Linked DNA regions of Homo sapiens: region 2 is linked to region 1. Evidence: fine-mapped expression QTL. A gene starts in region 1. The other region holds a variant in brackets. All regions are shown on one strand. Distances are from middle to middle. Region 1 holds the start of FBN1-DT (FBN1 divergent transcript). Region 2 overlaps LINC01491 (long intergenic non-protein coding RNA 1491).

The links. PIP is the estimated chance that this variant, and not a neighbour inherited with it, causes the effect.
Region 2: its variant is the best candidate, but not a certain one, in a credible set for the expression of FBN1-DT in aorta (GTEx, PIP 0.73).

The regions. Positions count from the first base shown.
Region 1 is chr15:48,643,208-48,648,579 of GRCh38, reverse strand. It overlaps FBN1-DT (FBN1 divergent transcript), which reads right to left and starts at 2,775. Exons shown (of 2, transcript NR_183872.1): 1 at 1,750-2,775. It overlaps FBN1 (fibrillin 1), which reads left to right and starts at 2,871. Exons shown (of 66, transcript NM_000138.5): 1 at 2,871-3,005; 2 at 3,630-3,974. The coding sequence starts at 3,811. RefSeq lists enhancers at 2,707-2,796, 2,309-2,833 and silencers at 2,907-2,986, 3,027-3,206, 3,617-3,746, 3,847-3,896.
Region 2 is chr15:47,831,401-47,836,772 of GRCh38, reverse strand. All of the region lies in intron 2 of LINC01491 (long intergenic non-protein coding RNA 1491), which reads left to right. Among named protein-coding and RNA genes, the nearest start is that of LINC01491, 12 kb to the left of the region's middle. The variant T/C (reference allele first, on the strand shown) is at 2,741.

The sequences.
Region 1 (5,372 bases):
TAATCTTCCACCATTGTGGTCAGAACATGAGACTTATTGCTCAAAGAGGGGAGTATATGGCTTGGAGCTGCCACCCAATATGAAGGAAGAATCTTTCCTTTATTGGAGAAAGAGGCCAATGAATAAAGAGGAGGTTGCCGGGGAAAGCAAAGGCCAGGTAAAAACGTTTAATCCAAATCCCTCCCTTGGAGGTGAAACCCTGGAAGGCAGTTTGAGTTAGAAATAATAGAAATGTCCAGAAATGTTGGAAGAGGGGACTTGCAGGGCACCAGGATTTGGCCTTTACTTCCTGGGCAGAAGCCTTAGAAAAGGCTTGTGTTTGGTTGCTGCTGACCAACATGTCACTGAGTGTAAGATTCTGAGAGAAAGGGCACAGCATGTCTTGCATGCTGCTGGAGTACAAGGAAAGCATGCAGTTTCCAGAGTCCCCTGTGGGTGCAGAGCAGCCCAGAAAACTGGTGGGCAGGACAAGGCCTTTCTGGATGTCCAACAGCCCTGCTTTCTCCTAATCCATGGTCCCTCTGCTCAGATCCTTTTCCCAGTGTGAATTACCTCCTTACCCCTCCCTACCCAGGGAGCTTTAAAAAATATCCATGTGAAGAATCCACTACAGACTACTCAAATCAGAAACTCTGGGTGTTGGGGCCTGGTGTCAGTGTCAGATTTTTTTTTTTTTTTTTTTTTTTTGAGGCAGAGTTTCACTCTGTTCTGCCCAGGCTGTAGTGCAGTGGCACAATCTCCTCTCACTGCAATCTCTACCTCTCAGGTTCAAGCGATTCTAGTGCCTCAGCCTCCTGAGTAGCAAGATTTACAGGCATGCACCACCACACCTGGCTAATTTTTGTATTTTTAGTAGAGACAGGGTTTCACAATGTTGGTCGGGCTGCTATTGAACTACTGGTCTAAAGTGATCCACCCGCCTTGGTCTCCCAAAGTGCTGGGATTACAGGCCCAGGCATGAGCCACCATGCCCATCCTGGTGTCAGAATTTTTTTAAAGCCTCTTATTATTTTACTGCATAGCCAGGGTTGAGAACTGCTATCCTAAGTAGAGTCTAGTTATGTTTTAGACTTAAGTTAAATATCACTTCCTCAGGGATCCCTTTCCTGATCAGCCCTAGCCTAGGTCAAGTCCCCTTGTTATATATCCTCCAAGCAAGCACCCAGTACTTATCCTGTTTGGCGCTTAACAATTGGTCCATTATTTGTTTCAAGTCTGCCTTTCCTTGTTGACTACCTGCTGTGTGAGGGGAGACACATTTCTGCCCTTTTCACTAAATTGTTGAAGTCAGTCGTGTTCAAATTGTTGAACCTGCCTTGTTAAAATTGTTGAAGTCTAGTTCAACAATGCACTAAGTAGTACACAGTTCGTGCTCAGTAAAAACATCTTGAATGAATGATCTCCTTTACTCAGCCAGGAGTGTGTGACCAAGGCTCTCATTCATGAATCTGCTAAGAGACCTTTTGCAGGTGAGACCTTAAAGTACACCACATACATACTTACAGGACTATGGCTTTAGATCAGCTCATAGTTCCCACAGTTTTTCTGTTTCATCTTCATGTATCACAGCAGTTCAGCATGTCCATCATCACCATTACAACCCTGTGTGGTGGACACTACAAGTCCCATCTTGTATTTGGAAAGAAGTTGAATAACTTGCCCAGGTCTCTCTACCCTACTGTCTGGGCCCCTTTACAAACGGTTACAAATAAGGAAAATCCCTTTCAACAAGATACATTCCCAGGGTACCTGTTTGTGCTGAGCTTTTATTATTGGCTTGACAGCAGGCTGGTGGCTGCTTGCAGGGGATCTTCTGGGGGTCTCCAGTTACAGCAGCCAGGACCCAGTGTGCGACTTCAGGCCTTCCTAAACTGTTACAGGGTGCAGGCATCATTGGGCATTATCCATATAAGGATGCCACAAATACTATACCTTTCAAAGCCACTAAATTCACTGTGCCGCGCATATCCTGGGGAGAGGCAGCTGTGTGTGGGGGAGGGCGAGGGGACCGGGAGGGTGTAAGTAGAGTCCTCCAGATGAACCCCAGTCTTAATCTGGGCTGGGCAAGAGGACCATCCCTTCACCGCTCCCATCCTACATCCTAGGTTCCAACATTTACAGGCCCCTGGGTTGGACACCGACTTAGAGAGAGCACCCTGGATTCAGGCCTGGGTGGCTTGAATTGAGCCTCAGAAGAGCCGCGTCTGGAGTGGGCTCTCGACACCCAGGGCAAGTGGGGGCGGCAGAGCCCTCTCCTCGGTCGGCACAGCAGCCTCTGCCGCGGTCCCGGCCTGCGACGCGCCCAGTCTTAGCCTCCCGGCCTCCGGCGTCTGCTGAGTGTCCGGCGGGAGAGGCGCAGGGAGCGCGCTACCGGGAGGCGCGGGCAGCGGGGACTGGTTTTCTCTCGGGCCAGGGCCTCCGGGGCAACCGTCTCCAGCGCGCATTCTTGGTGCAGGTGGAACAGCTTTCTGCTCCGGTAGGGCTTCACCTATCGCGGGAGAGGTTAATCTCGGATCTAAACCTCGCAGCCGCAGAGCGGGCTAAAACCGCTACTCCACCTCTTCCCATTTCTCCCCTCCCCACCTCAAGACAAAAAGTCCCAGGCCGGGCAGGACCTGATCACCTCTGCCTCCTCCCACTGCGCTAATCCTGCGAGCGAGAGGCCCCGCACCGAGGCGGAGGCTGGCAAAGGGGAGTGGAAAGGGAGGATGGATGGGGCCGGGGGGTGGGGTGGTGATGAGGGCGACGAAGGAGGGGGTGTCATTTTCTTTTTCTTTCTTTTTTTAAAAAAAGTATTTCTCTCGCGAGAAACCGCTGCGCGGACGATACTTGAAGAGGTGGGGAAAGGAGGGGGCTGCGGGAGCCGCGGCAGAGACTGTGGGTGCCACAAGCGGACAGGAGCCACAGCTGGGACAGCTGCGAGCGGAGCCGAGCAGTGGCTGTAGCGGCCACGACTGGGAGCAGCCGCCGCCGCCTCCTCGGGAGTCGGAGCCGCCGCTTCTCCAGTGGGTGCAGCCGGGGTCCCGACGGGGGTCGGGCGGCCACCGGGGCTGGAGCTGCGGCCACGGAGGCTTTTGCGTTTGCGCCGCGCCGAGGGCAGGGACAGGGACTGGGGTGAGGGGCTGTCCCGGAACGTCCACAGCTGGCGCTGGCCCTCCCCTGCCTGACAGCTTCCTGGCCCGGGGCTCTTGGTGCCGGGCTCCGCGTCAGATGTTCGGGGGGCGGTGGCATCGCCCGGAGTCGGCGGGGACGGCGCGGCTGGCTTCCAGCCTGGCGGAGAGGGCAGGCTGAGGAGTGGGGCGTTCAGAGCGCGCATCGCGCGCAATTCGTGCCGCTAAAAAAAATAAACCCAGAGAGCTCGCCCGGGGCTTAGGACCGCTGGGGATATGGGTACTTTGCGCCGCGCTCTTCTGGCGGGGCCCGGGAGGCCGAGGGATCGGCCGGGGCTGCTGCCGCCGGGGGCCTGGGCTTTCCAGCCAGCTGTGGACCAAACGGTCTTCCCTTACCCAAATTAACTGCGCCACGCGCAGGCGGCGCACGGGTTGGGCTTGGGAATGGGGACCGCGAGGCTTCAGCATCCCGATGCCCTGAAAGTCTCCCCGCCTCGGGGATTTGTCTCTGTGTTGCAGCTGGCAGGGGCCGCCTGAAGTGGGAGCAGCGCCTGGAGAAGGCGGGAGGAGCCCGGCCCGGGGGACGGGCGGCGGGATAGCGGGACCCCGGCGGCGCGGTGCGCTTCAGGGCGCAGCGGCGGCCGCAGACCGAGCCCCGGGCGCGGCAAGAGGCGGCGGGAGCCGGTGGCGGCTCGGCATCATGCGTCGAGGGCGTCTGCTGGAGATCGCCCTGGGATTTACCGTGCTTTTAGCGTCCTACACGAGCCATGGGGCGGACGCCAATTTGGAGGCTGGGAACGTGAAGGAAACCAGAGCCAGTCGGGCCAAGAGAAGAGGCGGTGGAGGACACGACGCGCTTAAAGGGTAAAGGAACCGGTTCCCTCCTTTGGTGTGGGTCTCCCAAGTTTCAAGATCCAGAACAACGGGCAGGATGACTCTCCCTGTGGAAGACTCCTTGGCAAGACCTCCTGGGGGCACCTTAGAGGTGCTAGGGTTGTTTAGTCCCCACCCCGTTCGTGGTTAAACTACCTTGCCCCTACTCCCAGAGATTTCTGCCCCAAAGGAGAGGACGTGGTTAAATGGAATCTTGGGCCATTGTTGAGGCAGATTTTGGGAGGCGAGAAGAGTTCCTTGGGGAAGAAGGGGAGGAGTTGCGAGTGGGATAAGAGGAGAAGCCCGTTCCTTTCCCTGCAATATCAATTCTGGTTGTTTCTAGAGGAAAGTACTTTCCTTGGGGTCATCTTGGTAGATGCTGTATTTGAAAGGGGGCAAGGAAAGGAAGGGATTCCCATGACAGTCAGAGGAGAAATCACACAGTAGTTGACTCTTCCGTAAATTATGCTTATTAAAATTACGGATTGGGTTTTCTGGGCAATGCTTCCTTTAGATGTCTACATTGGAAGCAGAACAGGGCAAGTGGTTCTGAGAACTGGTTTTTTGAGTTGTGTGGGGCTCTCCGTTTCACTGCAGCAGTAAGGCTGCTGTGGCCGGCCTTAAGGGAGTATTTTTAACTAGTGGTGTTTGTGTTGTGTACATGCAACTGACCATTTCACTGGCTTCCCATGCCGCTGTTACAGATGTTTCAGCCGGAAAAATTTTAATTAGACTTGACTAAGGGTTGTCATTTTCCTGTATTGAAGGACAGTGGGAATACATTTCCTTTAAGAGAAATTTGTCTGCAGTTGTTTAAGTTAAAGCCTCCATGGAAACAACAGGATGGACTGTCAGTGACCCCTTTTATCTTCTTGGAGGAGCCTGTTAAATAAATTCAGACAGTATATATAGGGAGATTTTGTATTAAATTCTTACCATTCTCGCTGATGCTCTTTTCCTGAGTGGTTCTGTAGCTTTATTATATAGCTCTGGGTCACCAAGTGATGGTATCCACTTGGATATGTGGCTGTTCATTTCACTTACTCTTTTTTTGTTATGAGGTGTTATAGTCATGTATATGTAGTAAAATTTGTGTTTGTATGGCCCAGATATGAGAAGAAAAAGTAAACTCACCAGACCAGTTTTTGACTCCTAGTCTGGAGTAAGGACAAGATGATTGTATGAGCCAAGCACTTAGGCTGTGATAAAATAGCACAGAAAATAGTTATGATTAATTCGGTTCCATCTTGGCCTTCGTGGAAAATAAACCCAGAATTCCGATAATGTTGGAAGGAAGTTTGCTTATCATGGTAAACCTGACCTTGATCAGACAGCAGATGTTTATTGCCCTGTGTGCAAGGCACATGGCAAGTTCAATAAGTAGACTGA
Region 2 (5,372 bases), 810 kb after region 1:
TGCACCTCTGTCCTCAGAGGGGAGGTTATGAGGGAATATATGGCACATAAACTGTCTCTCAAAATATATGCACCAGCACTTTTATAGCTTCATTGAAGCATAATTGATGTATGAAACAACTGCACATACTTAAGATGTATAATTTGATGGATTTATCATACACAAACACGCATGACTAAAACTACAATCATGATAATGACATATCCATTACCCCAAAGGTCTTCTCATGCCACTCTGTGCTCCATGCCTCCCTGACCCCTGTCCTCAGGCAACCACTGATCTGCTTCCTCACTTTATGTTTCCTAGATTTTTGTGTAAATGGAATCAGTCTGGTTTGGTTTTCTGTTTTGAGGGGGTGGGAGGGTTGGCTTCTCTTCTTTCATTTAGAATAATTATTTTGAGATTCATCCAGGTTATTGTGTGTTTGAAAAGTTTGTCCCTTTCTACTGCTGAGTAGTATTCCATTGTATGGGTGTACCATACTTACATTTAGGTTGCTTCCAGGTTGGGGTTATTACATAAAAAGCTGCTATCAGAATTCACATACAAGTCTTTGTGTGAACATATGCTTTCATTTCTTCTGGATCAATACCTAGAGATGGAATGGTTGGGTTGTATGATGCCTATATAGTTAACATCTTAAGAAATTGCTGAACTGTTTTCCAAAGTGGTCGTGCTGTTTCACATCCCTTCCAGCAGTGTTTAGGAGTCCGAGATGCTGCACATCCTCACCAGCACTTTAACTTGAGTTGCTCTAATGAGTGTGTAGTGGTGGCACATTGAGGCACTACAACTTTTGGAACCCTCAATGCATTATTTGCCTTCTTCCCTATACAACTTATATTTGGCAAAGCGTTTTTTAAATCTCCTGAGCTGAGGAGCTCAATAAAATGGGGTTGGAGGAGGGTCTCTGACATCTGTTTTATTAAAATTGAGCCTTGGGGTCTCTAGTGAAACTTAGAGAAATAGGGGAAGTAACCCCTCACATCCTACTGACCTTGCTGAGAATGTACAATGTAATACACCTGCATGGGCATATGGATTCATTCACCCATACCAGCTGATAAGGTTTGGATCTGTGTCCCCACCCAAACCTCATCTCGAATTGTAATCCCCATAATTCCCATGTGTCGAGGGAGGGACCTGATGGGAGGTAATTGGATTATGGGGGTGGTTTCCCTCATGCTGTTCTTGTGATAGTGAGTTCTCACGAGATCTGATGGTTTTATGTGTTTGACAGTTCCTCCTTTACATGTTCTCTTTCTCTTGCTTGCTGCCATGTAAGACATGCCTGCTTCCCCTTCTGCCATGATTGTAAGCTTCCTGGGGCCTCCCTAGCCATATGGAACTCTGAGTCAATTAAACCTCTTTCCTTTGTAAATTACCCAGTCTCAGGTAGTTCCTTATAGCAGTGTGAAAATGAACTAATACACCAGCTTTCTCTGCCAAACCGGAACCCTGATTATCACCAGCAACTATTCTCATTTTCCCAGATTCTCCAACAAGAAGAGGCTTTATTCCCTTAGCTCTAATCTGAAAACATTCAAGGCAGGACTGTGATTGCCCTTGTTTAGGTCACATTCCCATCCTTGATGTCTTAGTTTGGTTCTCCCCCAAAGCAGATTATGATATAAGGGTTTGAATGCAGGTCGTTAATTTGGGAGCCTGGTCCCAGGGAGCACTGTGAAGCAGTGGAGCAGTGAGGCAGGAAGAAGATCAGTACAGAATTTGGTAACGACAGTGGCATCCACAGCTCAACCATGCTCAGGACCCTCTGAGTTTGTGAGAAGTACATCTCAGAATTGCCCCCAGCGGAGGGTGTGGACACTAGGCTATTAAGCCATCATCTTCGGTTCTTGCTGGTTGGAAGTTCCTTCCAGGGACACTACCTCTCAAGCATTCTGCTGCCTGAGCACTCTGGCTGGACTTGTTCTCCAGCCAGACTCTTGCTTAGGCAGGGGCTACAGTGGGCAGTCAGCGTGAAGGACAACTGTCTGCAGGAGTCTTTGGGGGTAGACTGAGCAGTTGCGGGTGGGCGACCACTAGTGCTGCTACATCTGGATATCCTGGTAATATGACTTCCAACCTAAGCTAGGACCGGGAGGGGGAAAGAGACCAGGGAAATGAATTTCACAGAAGAATGTGTAGGAGTTGTTCTAGGTACATTCATTGGCATCTGCTAGGAGTTTTACAGAAACAATTTATGGTGGTAAATTGCTGACTAAAATCTTTGCAAGTTTGTTTCAAAATGTTTTAAAATGAAATCCTAAAAGGTAGCCTTAATGTAACTTTTTACTCCATAATTATTTATTCCTGGTACTCTCCCAGAGATCTCACCTAATAATAGAGACTCTTCCCTTTTTTCATTGTTTGCCTTTATCCTTTGGGGAAAACTTTCACCCTTCAGATAGTGAAAAAACTTATTGAGCAACTGCTGTGTGACTGGCTCTTGTATCAGGTACTAAGGATGCTAAGATGAATGCCCTCAGGCTGTGGAGGTAAATTCTGTGTGTCTTCCCACCAGCTGGATCAGAAGACCGAGGTTCCTGACTAAGAATGTCACATGAGGCTTTCCCTCTTTCTTCTTACTTCCTCTGATTCCAGAATGATGTTTTGAGCACAGCATGTTCACCTCTTTACAGAGTAAGAACAGCTTCTTGTCTTTAGGGTGCAATTTTAAAGAGAAATGTCGCTACTTTTTCCCTGCCAATTTTGAACACTAGACTATGGTTTCTCCAAA[T/C]TTGATGCTTTATCACATTCCAGGTAGTATAATCTTTATATTATCAACGTGTACACTCCCTTGCTTTTCCTAGCTGTGCCTTTTTTTCCTTCCTGGAATTTATATTTCTGTCTCCCATCTGCCAGCCTTTCCCATAAACTCTCAGGCACAGAATTTATTTCAATTTTCTGTAATCTCACTTTCTAACACCAATAAATAATCCACCTATCTCTGTGAGGCCCTGCTGACCTTTTGCTTCTCATCAACTTGATATATTTTTACTTTCTGTCTTTCGTTTTTACATATTTTCACTTTGGTTCTCTGATCTGGCCTCCTTTCCCCCAGTTTTGCACCCTGGCTATCTGGTGGTGGCTTCTCAGCCCCTACCTTGTACTTCTTTTCCTTTGCAGGGATCCCCAGCTGCAAGCTCTTTCACTACCATCTGACGTGTCCTCTGTGCTCCTGCTTTTCTCATCAGGGCTGCTGTCTGCTTAGCGGCTTGGGTTGAAGCTTCTCTTGGACCCTGGTTCGTTCGCCTGCTGTGCCCTTCTCCTCTTGCTTCCCTGGCCTGTACTCACTGAATTCTCTTCTTTTATCTGACTCTTCCAAATGGGGAATTTGCAGAAATTGGAAAGCATCTTTACCCAGCCAGCACCACCATTAGTGCCCATCACCCACTTATTGCAATGGAACACTGGAAGTTCACAAGAGGGTTGATTTTGTTGGGTGACACTGTGAGAAATGCTGATGATGCCTTAAGGTCTCTCTTCTGGCACAGGGTCCTCCTCAGCTCCACTGGACCCTCCCTCCTCTAGTGCCTGCTGTGAACCTATTGTTCTGTGCTAATAGATTTGTTTAATATTTTATTTTGACAGTTCCAAATTACAGAGAAGTTGCAAGAAGAGTACAAAAACCTCCCATATGCTCTTCCTCCTTAGTCTTCCCTGACCTCCATGACCCTGATATTTTTGAAGATTGTAGACTAGTCATTTTTTGAATGTTCTTCAATTTAAGTTTTCCAAAGTTTCCTCATGATTAGACATCAATGATATATTTTATGGAGGGAATACCACGAATGCTGTGTTCTTTGCAATGCATTCTCTCAAGTGGCACACAATGTCTGTCATGTTACTGACGGTGTTAACATTGATCACTTGGTTGAAATGGTGCCTGCCAGATTTCTTCACTGTAAAATTATTCTTTCTTTGTTATTAATAAATATAATATGGGTTGTACTTTGACACAATGTAAAATCCCATTCCTCATTTAGCTTTTACCCACGATTCTTTGTTTTTTTTTTTTTTTCTATTTCCCAGCCAAGGTTTTTTATTTTTTTTTAAGTTCTGGGGTATGTGTGCAGGATGTGCAGGTTTGTTACATGGGTAAACATTTGCCATGGTGGTTTCTTGCACCTGTCAAACCATCAGCTAAGTATTAAGCCCAGCATGCATTAGCTATTTTTCCTGATGTTCTCCCTTTCCCCGCCCCTTCCCAACAGGCCCCAGTATGTGTTGTTCCTCTCCTTATGTCCATGTGTTCTCATTGTTCAGGCCCCACTTATGAGTGAGAACATGAAGTATTTGGTTTCCTTTCCTGTATTAGTTTCCTGAGGATAATAGCTTCCAGCTCCATCCATGTCCCTGAAAAGGACATGATAATTGTTTCTTTTTATGGCTGCATAATATCCCATGGTGTGTATGCACCACATTTTCTTTATCCAGTCTACCATTAATGGGCATTTGGGTGGATTCCATGTCTTTGCTATTGTGAAGAGTGCTGCAATGAACATACATGCTCATGAATCTTTATAATAGAATGATTTATATTCCTTTGGGCATATGCCTAGTAATGTGATTGCTGGGTCAAATGGTATTTCTGCTCCTAGGTCTTTGAGGAATCACCAGACTGTCTTCCACAATGGTTGAACAAATTTACATTCCCACCAATAGTGTAAAGGCATTTCTATCTCTCCACAGCCTCGCCAGCATTTGTGATTTCTTGACTTTTTAATAATCACCATTCTGACTGGTGTGACATGGTATCTCACTGTGGTTTCGATTTGTGTTTCTCTAATGATCAGTGATGTTGAGCTTCTTTCACATGTTTGTTGGCTGTACAAGTGTCTTCCTTGGAGAAGTGTCTGCTGATGTCCTTTGACCCTTTTTAATGGGGTTGTTTTTTTTCTTGTAAATTTGTTTAAGTTCTTTGTAAACTCTAAATATTAGACCTTTGTCAGATGGATAAGTTGCAAAAATTTTCTCCCATTCTGTAGGTTGTCTGTTTGTTCTGATAATAGTTTCTTTTGCTCTGCAGAAGCTGTTTAGTTTAATTAGACCCCATTTGTCAATTTTTGCTTTTGTTGCCATTGTTTTTGATGTTGTTTTCATGGAATCTTTGCCTGTGCCTATGTCCTGAATGGTACTGCCTAGATTTTCTTCTAAGGTTTTTATAGTTCTGAGTTTTACATTTAAGTCTTTAATCCATCTTGAGTTAATGTTTGTATAAGGTATAAGGAATCGGTCCAGTTTCAATTTTCTGCACATTGTTAGACAGTTCTCTCAGCACCATTTACTAAATAGGGAATGTTTTCCCCATTGCTTGTTTTTGTCAGGTTTGTCAAAGATCAGATGGTTATAGATGTGAGGGCTTATTT